Regions from separate parts of the Homo sapiens genome. Here region 2 is linked to region 1. Evidence: fine-mapped expression QTL. A gene starts in region 1. The other region holds a variant in brackets. All regions are shown on one strand. Distances are from middle to middle. Region 1 holds the start of LAMP1 (lysosomal associated membrane protein 1). Region 2 overlaps LOC124903218 (a long non-coding RNA gene).

The links. PIP is the estimated chance that this variant, and not a neighbour inherited with it, causes the effect.
Region 2: its variant is the best candidate, but not a certain one, in a credible set for the expression of LAMP1 in monocytes after R848 (Quach 2016, PIP 0.88).

The regions. Positions count from the first base shown.
Region 1 is chr13:113,296,003-113,298,905 of GRCh38, forward strand. It overlaps LAMP1 (lysosomal associated membrane protein 1), which reads left to right and starts at 1,237. Exons shown (of 9, transcript NM_005561.4): 1 at 1,237-1,493. The coding sequence starts at 1,433. RefSeq lists a silencer at 1,368-1,647 and an enhancer at 1,878-2,057.
Region 2 is chr13:113,376,226-113,379,128 of GRCh38, forward strand. LOC124903218 (a long non-coding RNA gene) reads right to left here. Exons shown (of 2, transcript XR_007063881.1): 1 at 2,674-2,903; 2 at 120-417. Among named protein-coding and RNA genes, the nearest start is that of GRTP1, 14 kb to the left of the region's middle. RefSeq lists an enhancer at 2,429-2,903. The variant T/TC (reference allele first, on the strand shown) is at 1,292.

The DNA of each region.
Region 1 (2,903 bases):
TAGTGAGTGCCTGGTCCTGTCTTTATCTGGCTGAGTGCTGTCTCTATTAACTAGGTGCACATCCAGTCCCCGTTGCTATGATGCCTTTTGAAATGTAAGATTAAATCTTTTTCTAAGATGTAGGTACTTATGCGACGGGTGCTTTATACAAAGCAGTAGCGTAGGGGCCTTAATTAAATAGTATTTTAACAAAAGGCCATAAATCCTATATGATGACAAGCCAAAAAACAGAGCATCTTCAGACTTCTAAAATGCAGGAGCCAGGCGCCGTGGCTCAGGGCTGTAATCTCAGCACTTTGGGAGGCCGAGGCGGGTGGATTGCTTGAGGTCAGGAGTTCGAGACCAGCCTGGCCAACTGGTGAAACCCCGTCTCTACTCAACATACAAAATCAGCCGGGCGTGGTGGCGCACGCCTGTAATCCCAGCTACTTGGGAGGCTGAGGCAAGAGAATCGCTTGAACCCGGGAGGCGGAGGTTACAGCGAGCCGAGATCGCGCCACTGCACTCCAGCCTGGGCGACAGAGCGAGACTCCGTCTCAAAAAAAAAAACAAAGTGCTCGACAGGAACTTTCTGTAAGCCAAAGAGTATCGCCATCGCACCTTCACCTTCACCTTGGGCAGCCTGGTGCCGTCTTCCCTCAGCCCGCGATTAACGAGCGGAAGGCCGCACTGACCCATTTCAGATCCCTTATTTCCTTCCTAAAACCACTCAAGAGTTTGGGCACAGTGGCCTCCCTGTGTGAGGAACTTGCTTCCCACTCACCAAAAGACAAACCCTTCGCCCATCCCTGGCCGCGCACCCGGCCGGTCACCCGCGCTGCCACCCACACCACCCTCCTGTCCATAAAGAGCCCGCGTTTGGGACGCCTCGCAGGCTGAAGGGAGGCCTGGGCGTCCGCGATCCGTCTGCCCTTTCTCCCCTCGCGGGCTTCCTCTTTCCTCACTTTCTCCCGCCACTACTCTTCCTCTTCCTTTTCCGCGAACCCAGCCCACTTCCCGTTTCAGGACCTCGGCTCGGCCCCAGTCCCCCGGACCAGGCCGGGTCACGTGGGTCCAGGGTCACGTGCCGCTGCGGGTCACGTGCCGCTGCGGGTCACGTGTCGGCCTGCATCACGCGTGAGGGGGCGCGCGGTGCTGGAAGCTGCCGCACCTGCGGGGAGCCGAGCCGCCGGCGCTCGACGCGCGCGCTCTCGCGAGACCCGCGGGATCACGTGACGCCCGGGCGCGGCGCAGCTCACGTGACAAGCGCTGCCGGCCGCGGTGTCTTCTTCGTGCCGGCGTCGCAGTGGCCGGGCCTCTTGCGTCTGGTAACGCCGCTGTCTCTAACGCCAGCCCTTGGCGCCCGCGCCCCGCCACCGCAGCGCCCGGCAGTCCGCGGCCCAACCGCCGCCCGCGCCCCCGCTCCCCGCACCGTACCCGGCCGCCTCGCGCCATGGCGGCCCCCGGCAGCGCCCGGCGACCCCTGCTGCTGCTACTGCTGTTGCTGCTGCTCGGTGAGGGGGTCGAGGCGGGGCCTGGGAGCGGCGGGACCGGGCGGAGCCGAGGTCCCTGGGTCTTGAGGGCGGGGGACTGCCGGGTCGTTGTCCCGCGGGTCGCCCCGCACCCACTGCTCCTGGTCCCGGCCGGCTCTGCCCGCGGGCGGGTGTTTCTCTCGGGGTCGTAGGGTCGGAGCGGAGCTCAATGGCAGGTGCTTGGGGGACCAGGAGGTCTCATCCCAGGACCTGGCTCCTCTAAGGTCTGTCTCACTGAACTCAGTTTTTCTGTGGTGGTGAGTGCGAAAGGGAACTTCCGATGGCTTGCTCGGCGGTCTGGTGCTTTCAGGTCGTTAAGTTTCCTGGCAAGTTGAGGCGGTGAGATCTAGACGAGGCTGCGCCGCCGAAGGTGGCAGGGACGTCTGTGGTCTCAGCTCCCGGGTGGGTGACCTAGATCAAGCTCTTCCCAACATGGATTTCACCCAGGACAGGGAGAAGCCGGTGCGAGCATTCCCCACCTTTGTACTTGAACCTTTCTCCTCTTTCAGCGGTGTGGAGGAGATGCGAGTGTATTTATGTTATTGTGAATTCACATGTATGTTAAAATAATTTTTAAAGTTATCTTTGGGATTTCACAAGATTCCGTAGTAGACAAGATGAGGGAAAGCTGGCCTCAGACTCACGGTGGCAATGTTCATGTCTAGTAAGTAGTTTAAAGAGCGCCGTTCCTGTAGGCCGAAATGCGGGACCAGGGAACACGTGGGGAAGCACCCTTCTCTTCTGTCAGTTTATAGAGCTCAGATGGGCAGTAGGTGCTCAATATTGTATTGACTAGTGAATTTCGTTCTCATTTATTGTCTTAATAAGAGGATGTGTGCTGTCTCTTTAAGACAGTCCGGATTGCCCCCCGCCAACACTATTCTTTCACCTCCTCCCCCCGCCGCCCTCCCCCGTAATATGAGAAGATTATCTTAAATGCCAGGATCTGAAAGGTGATGTAGAATCAAGCTGGGGGAGTGTGTGTGAGTTAAGTAGATATAGAAATACACTCCTGTACACATCTGCCTTGACTTCTTTAAATCCCTCAGTCCCATCCAGCTGTAAAACTCTGTTACTGTGAGTGAATGGATCTTGGCTTCCCTTTTTTGTTTTGCCTGTTGTGTAAAATGAATTCTTTGAACTGCCTGAATAGCCACAGAGATGAACTTATTCCAATAGTAAGCCTGAAGCCTTGCTCAGCTCCTGCGACAGGGTCAGGTGTAGTTAATGAAAGGAGTTGCAGAAACAAGTTTTGTCATGTCACAGCAACTGCATTGTTCTTTGTTACAGATGCTCACAAGCCTCATAACTTTGATGTTTTGTTTCATGTTTTAAAAACTCACTTCAGGCCGGGAGCAGTGGCTCACGCCTTTAATCCCAACACTTTGGGTG
Region 2 (2,903 bases), 80 kb after region 1:
GGGGTCTGATGGAGTCTGATGGGGATGAAGGGGTCCGATGGGGACTAATGGGGTGTGATGGGGATGATCGGCACTGGTGGGCTGGCCCATGGGCTGCGGCCACATTTCCATGCTGAAGAGCCTGATGTGGTCTGATTTATTTTTTTAAAAAGTATTTCCCCAGTTATTCTGTAGCTTGCTGTCTGACAAGAGTGGAGGCAGGGGCCAGTGAGAAGGGTTAGAGAGGACAGTGGCCTGGAGGAGGAGCAGATGGAGAGGAGGGGTCGCCTCTGGATTCTTTGCTGAGGTGGGTGCAGCAGGAGCTGCTTCTGGGGTGGATTCGTCCAGATTTGTTAATTGCCTTCATTCTTCTCTACTTCATCTGCCTCAGGAAAGAAGGGAGTACGCATCTGGAAGGCTTAATTCAGACTATTTTTACTGTTGAAAAATAATGACATTGTCTAGGTTAGAATTTAGGAGCAGTAATATAAAGATTCGTGAGATGAAAGTTGTACGTCCAGAGAAACCTACTTACACCTGGAATAGCGTTACTGGATTTAGCAAATAAAAATGCAAATACAGGACACCCAGAGTGAGACATACTTTTACTAATATAGAGGAAGAAGTCAAAGCAAAACAAAACACTTCCTCTAATCTATTGCTTGAGGGACCTGGGAATTCCTTGGACCTGGGAATCAACGTGATCAGGCAGATTAACAAGAGAAAAAGACAATTTTAATTATGTAAGTATTCACAGTGGCTGGCCAAAAAAAAAAAAAAGTGGCCGAAGCAGGTGGCCAGAATCTTTCCCCTGATCCAGGAGAGAATTCACTGGGTCTGGTGCCTTCTTAAGTCTGAAAAGAAAGATTTGCAATCTATTGTCTCTGAAGCCTGATACCTGGAGGCTTCATCTGCATAATAAGAACCTTGGTCTCCACAAGCTCTTTTTTTTTTTTTTTTTTTTTGAGACAGAGTCTCGCTCTGTCGCCCCAGGCTGGAGTACAGTGGCTCAATCTCCGCTCGCTGCAAGCTCCACCTCCCGGGTTCACGCCATTCTCCTGCCTCAGCCTCCTCAGTAGCTGGGACTACAGGTGCCCGCCACCATGCCCGGCTAATTTTTTGTATTTTTAGTAGAGACGGGGTTTCACCGTGTTAGCCAGGATGGTCTCCATCTCCTGACCTCGTGATCCGCCTGCCTCGGCCTCCCAAAGTGCTGGGATTACAGGCGTGAGCCACCGCGCCCGGCCATGCTCTTATCTTAACCCAGACACACCTCTTTGTATTGATTCCAGGTCTTTTTTTTTTTTTTTTT[T/TC]TTTTCTGAGATGGAGTCTCACTCTGTCGCCAGGCCGGAATGCAGTGGCGTGATCTCGGCTCACTGCAACCTCTGCCTCCTGGGTTCAAGCGATTCTCCTGCCTCAGCCTCCCGAGTAGCTGGGATTACAGGCGTGCACCACCAGGCCCAGCTAATTTTTGTATTTTTAGTAGAGACAGGGTTTCACCATGTTGGCCAGGCTGGTCTGGATTTCCTGACCTCGTGATCTGCCCCCCTCGGCCTCCCAAAGTGCTGGGATTACAGGTGTGAGCCACTGCGCCCGGCCAATTCCTGGCCTTTAGATAAACTCTTTCAAACGACTGACAATCTGAAAATCACCTATGACCTGAAGCCCACCCCCGCGTCCTTCAAGTTGTCCCGCCTTTCCAGACCGCAGTGTTCACCTTACATGTATTGAATGATGTCTCCTGTCTCCCTAAAATGTAGAAAACCACGCTGTAGCCTGTGTCCTCAGGATCTCCTGAGGCTGCGTCAGGGTTCAGGCTAGACAACGGATAAGGGGGTTTGGGCTTTTGGAGGGCAGGTAAGAAACGGGAAGGTGACCAGGAAGTGTGTAGTGAACAAGGTTGTTTAGTAAATGTGTTACGTAGGCCAGGCACAGTAGCTCACACCTGTGATCTGTGAAAGGAAATTAAATCTTGAGACCCCAAACTCATTTAGCCAAAGGAAAAAGTCAAGTTGGGGACTGGATCATGCAAACTTGCCTCCCCTTTTGGTTTCTAAATAAGATGGCTGCAAGATGAGAAGCTCCATACCTCCCTAATATTTTGCCCACAAGGAAATTTTTACTGAGCTCCGAGATCTTTACTCTAAGGTGTTTCCATAAAGATTTCACTATGGCAATGTAAACTGATTCCTCATCTTTACAGGTGCAGTCACCCATGGCCCATCAGACACAAATGCATACCCAATTGTTTCCCTGCCCCATTTTGTCTGTGTGATCTTATGTAAAAATACAGATTCACTGAGGCAGACAGAGGCATGAATGACTCTTTTCCCCTACCCTCTTCTTTTTTTTTTTTGAGACAGTCCCGCTCTGTCACGTAGGCTGGACAGCAGTGGCACGATCTCTGCTCACTGCAAGCTCTGCCTCCCAGGTTCACGCCATTCTACTGCCTCAGCCTCCCGAGTAGCTGGGACTACAGGTGCCCACCACCACGCCTGGCTAATTTTTTGTATTTTTAATAGAGACGGGGTTTTGCTGTGTTAGCCAGGATGGTCTCGATCTCCTGACCTTGTGATCTGCCCACCTCGGCCTCCCAAAGTGCTGGGATTACAGGCATGAGAGCCACCGCGTCCGGCAAACTTGTGCTGATTCATCAGGGACCACCCCAAACAGAATGATGGCGTTTTGCTCCTACCTGGGCGTGTTTGTGTGTGCCCAAGTCTGTGTTTGTGTCGGAAAGCTGATGTCAAGGTCAAACACATGATCAATGTTCCAAGCAGGGCACAGGCAGGGCCTGGCTGGTCAGCGCCATTTCTGTCAATCAATGTTCCAAGCAGGGCACGGGCAGGGCCTGGCTGGTCAGCGCCATTTCTGTCAATCAATGTTCCAAGCAGGGCACAGGCAGGGCCTGGCTGGTCAGTGCCA